Linked DNA regions of Homo sapiens: region 1 is linked to region 2. The links come from fine-mapping of genetic effects on gene expression. A gene starts in region 2. The other region holds a variant in brackets. All regions are shown on one strand. Distances are from middle to middle. Region 1 overlaps TTC39B (tetratricopeptide repeat domain 39B). Region 2 holds the start of PSIP1 (PC4 and SRSF1 interacting protein 1).

What was found.
Region 1: its variant is fine-mapped to the expression of PSIP1 in cerebellum (GTEx, PIP 0.96).

What each region holds. Positions count from the first base shown.
Region 1 is chr9:15,296,992-15,299,905 of GRCh38, forward strand. All of the region lies in intron 1 of TTC39B (tetratricopeptide repeat domain 39B), which reads right to left. Among named protein-coding and RNA genes, the nearest start is that of TTC39B, 8.8 kb to the right of the region's middle. The variant G/A (reference allele first, on the strand shown) is at 1,234.
Region 2 is chr9:15,509,593-15,512,444 of GRCh38, forward strand. It overlaps PSIP1 (PC4 and SRSF1 interacting protein 1), which reads right to left and starts at 1,378. Exons shown (of 16, transcript NM_033222.5): 1 at 1,225-1,378; 2 at 525-737. The coding sequence starts at 596. RefSeq lists enhancers at 491-1,444, 1,445-2,397 and silencers at 504-703, 804-853, 984-1,043, 1,054-1,263, 1,284-1,363.

The DNA of each region.
Region 1 (2,914 bases), 210 kb before region 2:
GAAAAAAGAAAAGAAAAGAAAAAAGAAAAGCCAAACTCGGTAGCTAAGCATTCAAGGCCAGATTCTGATCAATCTGGCTGGAACACACTCACAGCAGCTCTCCTGCATTAATCACTTAAAGGGGGCATATACTGTGCTCCAACCACATGGCCTCCAGCCTACTTCACCACGCCTGAGGAGCGCAGTTCCCCTGCTGTTCCCTCTGCCTGAAGGAATGAGGGGTGATCTCCTCCCTTGCTGCCTGCTGAAATTCCACCTCATGAAGCCCAGGTCGAATGTCACCTTCTAGAAGACACATGTCAAAAACTCAAAGGAACTTTTACAGACAGATCATCAGTTTCAACTCCTTCGTGTCGCCTATGAGGAAAACAAGGCTCAAAAACATTAAGGGACTTGCTCTAAGTCACACAGCTAGTCAGTAAAGACTTGGTCTGGAAACAAGTCAGCAGGTGGGGTGGGCAGCAGGCAGGAGAGAGAATGTCCAGGTGGACCACCCTGTGACAGCCCTCTTCTCCTTGGAGCACAGGACACTTGAACCCTCTCTAGACTCTACCCTGCACTCCAGGTTACAGCTGTCTGTGTCCATATTTCTAACTGCCTTTTTCAGAGGGATCCACACCATATCTTACCCATCATGTTGCCTTAATTATTAGGTACCCTTGGGTCGTCAGTGAGTCCCAATAATCATTCAACAAACAAAACAAAACACCAGCCTCCGTCACTCTGGGCTTGTCTACCTCCAATCAGCCTCCACGCCTTGCCAGGGAGCCACCTAAAATACTGCTTGCTCCCCACCACTCCTCACTGAAACCCGCAGATGCACACCATGATCTCCACAATCTGACATGAAAGTCTCTGAACGGCCCTTCTTACCTGTGATGGTTAATTTTAGGTGTCAAGTTGACTGGATTAAGGGATACCCAGATAGAGAGAACAGGTAAAGATTTTATTTATGGGTATGTCTGGGAGAGTGTTTCCAGAAGAGACTGGCATTTGAATCCATGAACAGGGTAAGGAAGACCTACCCTCACCCAAAGTTTTGGGTACCATCCACTCAGCAGAGGACCCAGATAGAACAAGAAGACAGAGGAAAGCCAAATTTGCTTTTTCCCTCTTCTGGAGCTGGGAAGTCCTTTTTCTCCTTCTCTTGGACATCAGAACTCAAGGTTCTCCAGCATTCGGTCTCCAGAACTTGCACCTGTAGTCCCCCAGGTTCTGAAGCCTTCATCCTCA[G/A]ACTGAGTTATACCATCAGCTTCCATGGTTTTGAGGCCTCTGTGCTTGGACTGAGCCACGCTACCAGCCTCTGCAGCTCTCCAGCTTGCAGACAGCATATGGTAGGGCTTCTCACGCTCCATAATTGTATTAGTCCATTTTCATACTGCTGTGAAGAAATACCCAAGACTGCATAATTTATAAAGAAAAAGAGGTTTAATGGACTCACATTTCCACACGGCTGGGAAAGCCTCAAAATCATGGTGAAAGATGAAGGAGGAGCAAAGGCACATCTTACATGGCAGCAGGCAAGAGAGTGTGTGCGGGGAAACTGCCCTTTATGAAAACATCAGATCCCATGAGACTTATTCACTGTCACAAGAAGAGCATGGGAAAACCCACCCCCATGATTCAATTACCTCCTACTGGGTCCCACCCATGACACGTGGGGATTATGTGAGCTATGACTCAAGATGAGATGTGGGTGGGAACACAGCCAAACCATATCAATAATCATGTGAGACAACTCCCATAATAAATCCCCTCTCATCTATCTATATATTATGTCCCATTTCTCTGGAGAACTAACAAAGTACCCTTCCAGCCTTGATTCCTGACACTCCACCTGTCCAGAGCACCACAGGATCTTCCTCACCTCTGCACCTTATCCCGCTATTCCCTCTCCTGGAAGACACTTCAAGAGCTCCCCCTTCCCCACATCACTTCTCCATGGCTAACCCCTACTCATTCTTCTTGACTCAGAATGTCTAAGAAATGGCCTCCTCCAGGAAATCATTCCTGACTACCCTCTCTCCCAGGAGAGGTGCCCTCCTCTGTGCTCACAAAGTACCCTGGCATCCCTCCTCCACCAGGTGGTTCTCAGAACACACATGTCCCCACTCTCCACTAGACCATAACCTGAGGCAGGAGCTGCATTTGCTTGTCCAGCACCTAACACAATACTCAACACATTAAGTCAGACTGAAAATTGTCACTCACTAGTTACCTTCAGATCCAACAAACATACAATGTATCATTTCACCAAAATATTTTAAAATACGTAGGCCCTATGTATATGACAGCATAATATCAGCAGTACCAAGGGGACACATCCACAGATCACAACAAAAAGCATTTACTACACACCTAGTCTTTAAATAAAGAGCTGAAGATGCATGATGGCATTAGGAACTGCCAGGCACTCCCCACTTCAGAAGTCCCTTTAGAGAGGTGTGATGACATCACCAATACAGCAACTGGCCGCGGTGGCTCTGGGTATAAACGGACTTGGTGCATCAGGAGGCAGCACAGATCCACGAAGCACAGGGGGAGAAAAGGAGAGTGCTGACTAAGGTGGTGGCCAATGGGAGGCTCAAAAAAGGAAAATCTCTCCCCCAGGAAGCCTCAAAAGCACCCACAGGAGTCCCCAGGTACTCATCTTTGGGAAGTGAATACAAAGTAACTTCAGGAGACTCCGCCTGAGATGCTACTGGGGCATCCAAGACTGGAGATTGGTCGGCTGTCAACAGATGGCTAGATGGAAACTCTGAGCTTCACTGAACTCACAGTATCAGATTCACACTAAATGACTGGTAACAGCACCCATGGGCAGGAAACTGAGATAAGAAGGCAAGCAGCTAGCACAGGAAGAACTGATACTTGTCTGCAGAAGCATATGTGTTACCCAGACTTGAAGGGAAGG
Region 2 (2,852 bases):
AGAATATCCAGTCCTGAATCTGTATTAAACAAGCAAATCCAGAAGGCCTCATCAAGTACAAGGTATTTTTTTTAAAACCCTGTAAATCCAATTTAATCACATACGCACTTCTCTGACATCCAAGTGTTTGTGTGTAATCTGCACAAATTCCATTGATATTTTGTACTTGATCCAAAACTATGGAAATGTCAATGTTTCACTAATTTTTAAACAAAAATTCACTCTTCATTATTTCACCTACAATGGAATATTAACTAGCAACGCATTTAAATATTTCCTAGGAAGAAAATCTGTCCAAGTCTGCCAATAAACCATAGGGAAATACACAGGTATGTAGAAACGTCTGGATTTTCATAATTACACGGGAGATTATTGGGCAAAAAACTAAAATGAAAGGTCAGGTTACAAATGAGACTAAAGCGAGGGAGAGAAAGGACAGAAGAAAAAATAAAGAGACACGGTGGGCAGCAGGCCTCTGGAGAGGAGGGTAGCACTGCTAAGCGCGAGGGCTACAAATCACTTACTCGAGCTGGCCAATGGGGATAACCTTTCATCTTGGCGAAGATGAGGTCTCCAGGTTTGAAATCGCGAGTCATGTTTCGGGGGCGAGACCGGGGGTCCGAAGCCCGGGAGGCGGCGAGGAGATGCGGCGGCGCGGGGATGCGGGCGGCGGACGCGGGCCCAGCTACCGGGCCCGCGGGCGGGGGAGGATGCCTCGGGGCGTCCCGACGCGCCTGCTAGGGAGAGCACCGAGGGCGGTTAAAGCGAAGAACCCCGAAGGGAGGGGCCGCAAGGGGAGGGGGAGGGGAACCGGCGGGTGGGGGTGGGAGAGCGAGGGGACGGCCGCCTCCCGCTCCTCCCCCGCCAGTGCGCTGCCTCCGCGCTGGAGCAGGTCCTCCACCCCGCCACCGAAGAGACGCCACCACCTGAAGCAGGGATGCTGCCCGGCCAGAAATCGCCCGTCTGCCCGCCCCATCTTTCTCCGGGCTTTTTCCACCGAGCTTAAGCCCCAAAAGGGAGGGGGTGCATGGGAGAGAAAAAGGCAGGGATTCCGAGAAGCGAGCGGCCCCCTTCCGCCCACGCAAGGCCTCCCCCGCAACCTGCTGCCCAGCGGCTGCAGCCTCGGCCCCCTCGGCTCCCGGGCGGGCCGCGTCCACTTCCCCGCTACAGCCAGGAGCGACGCCACCGAGGGGGGGGCGGGGCGAGTCCCCGTCGCCCGCTCACCTGCCGGGGCCGCGGGCGCCGACGCTGCGGTTGCTGGCCGGTCGCCTCTACCCGCGTCCACGCAAGCCACCTGCGCCACCAGCTGCCGCAGAGGCGTCTCAACGGCTCGGAATCGCAACCGCGCCGCCGCTGCCGCCGCCGTAGCTGCGCTGCTCCCGCGCGGCTCCCGCTCGGCGCCCGCTAGCACTGGGGCGCGACCAACTGTTTACCGAGAGAGGGGGGATGTTGCAGCACCCGGCGAAGCTGTGTGGCTCCGAAGCGGATTTTCTGGAAACCCTACGTCCCCAAGTTCGCTTTCATGTAACAGGTGCATGCAGATGGAGAGGAAGACGCAAGCGAAGAAGAAAGGACTGGGCGAAAATAGCTCGGCCTGCCGCAAGTTCCCCCTGCGGTTTGCGGAGTGGTCGGGCCCGGCCCGCCCCTGCTGGCTTCTCTGCGTGTGTGTATTTGTATGTGTACTGTATGTAAAAGGCGGGGAGGGAGGAAATGATTGTTGTGGACGCGGTTTTGGGGGCGGGTATCCGGGCCTCTCTCCCTTGGCTGCGTGTTAGGGAGAAAGTGGCAGTAAAGATTCATGTTCTTGTATCGTTTCCAGGGTGGGGAGGTTTGAATGCTGCTTTTGCGCGGTTTGCATCATCCAAAAAAGAGGAGCTGTACGAAAACCCTAAGATGAAATTGGAGCATGCGGCGGTTGCAGGGTGTGCTGCATCTAGGCCTCTTGCACCTCGCTGAATGGGCCTCGTAGTCTCCTTTTCCTTGAAATTGTAGTATGAGAGAGCCCTATTTCATTTCTTTTGCATTTGCATCACCAAGAACTATTAAGAAAAATGCAACCCTACTGAATGCAAAATGCGAAGGGTAGAAAACAATGACAGGAAAACAGAAACCTTTTAGATAGGATGTGAGTTTGGGCCCTAACTAAATTTTAGCTGCATCTAAATTTTATTTCCCTAGTAGAATAGGAGCTGGTAGGTGGTACAATGTGTAAGTGTTACTAAACCTCAAATATTTTCTCTCTTAAAATGCTCTTCAAGGGATTTTAAAGGTTAATTTTTTGATCCTTTAGAGAGGCTGAAAATATTTTTAAAAAGAATGTTAAGACATATAAAAATAAGAATAATAAGACATATATTAGCACCTAGATAATACTGTTTTAAATACGGGACTCAACTGGAAATGAATTAGGAAATTTTTTTTGAATTGGTAAAAATTGAGAATTTTTTGAAAGCGATACAGCATGTCTTTAAAAAGGAATGAAAGAAGACAGTCCCAAAGTAAAATGTCCTGTAAGGAGTTTCGAGAAACTAAGTATACCTGGGCAATATGCAGAGAGTTCCAAGTGGAGCAAAAAGAGAAATTGGCAGAGGAGAAGGAAGGGTTGGTGAAATGTCTTGAAGCTTCTCATTCTGAATATGAATTTAATGTGTGTAGTAGGAAGCTACTATAGGTTGCTCAGCAAGAAGGGGGTAAAAATGATTATTTAACCAGTTCTTGATGTTTCAAGGTAGATGTTAGTAGAAAGAGGCTGGGGGTAACTGGAGTACTCATGAAATGACGCATTTCTCAGTGAGAATGGTGACTAAGAAAAGGGAAGGAAGAGCACAACTAAGTAATTACACAAAGGAATG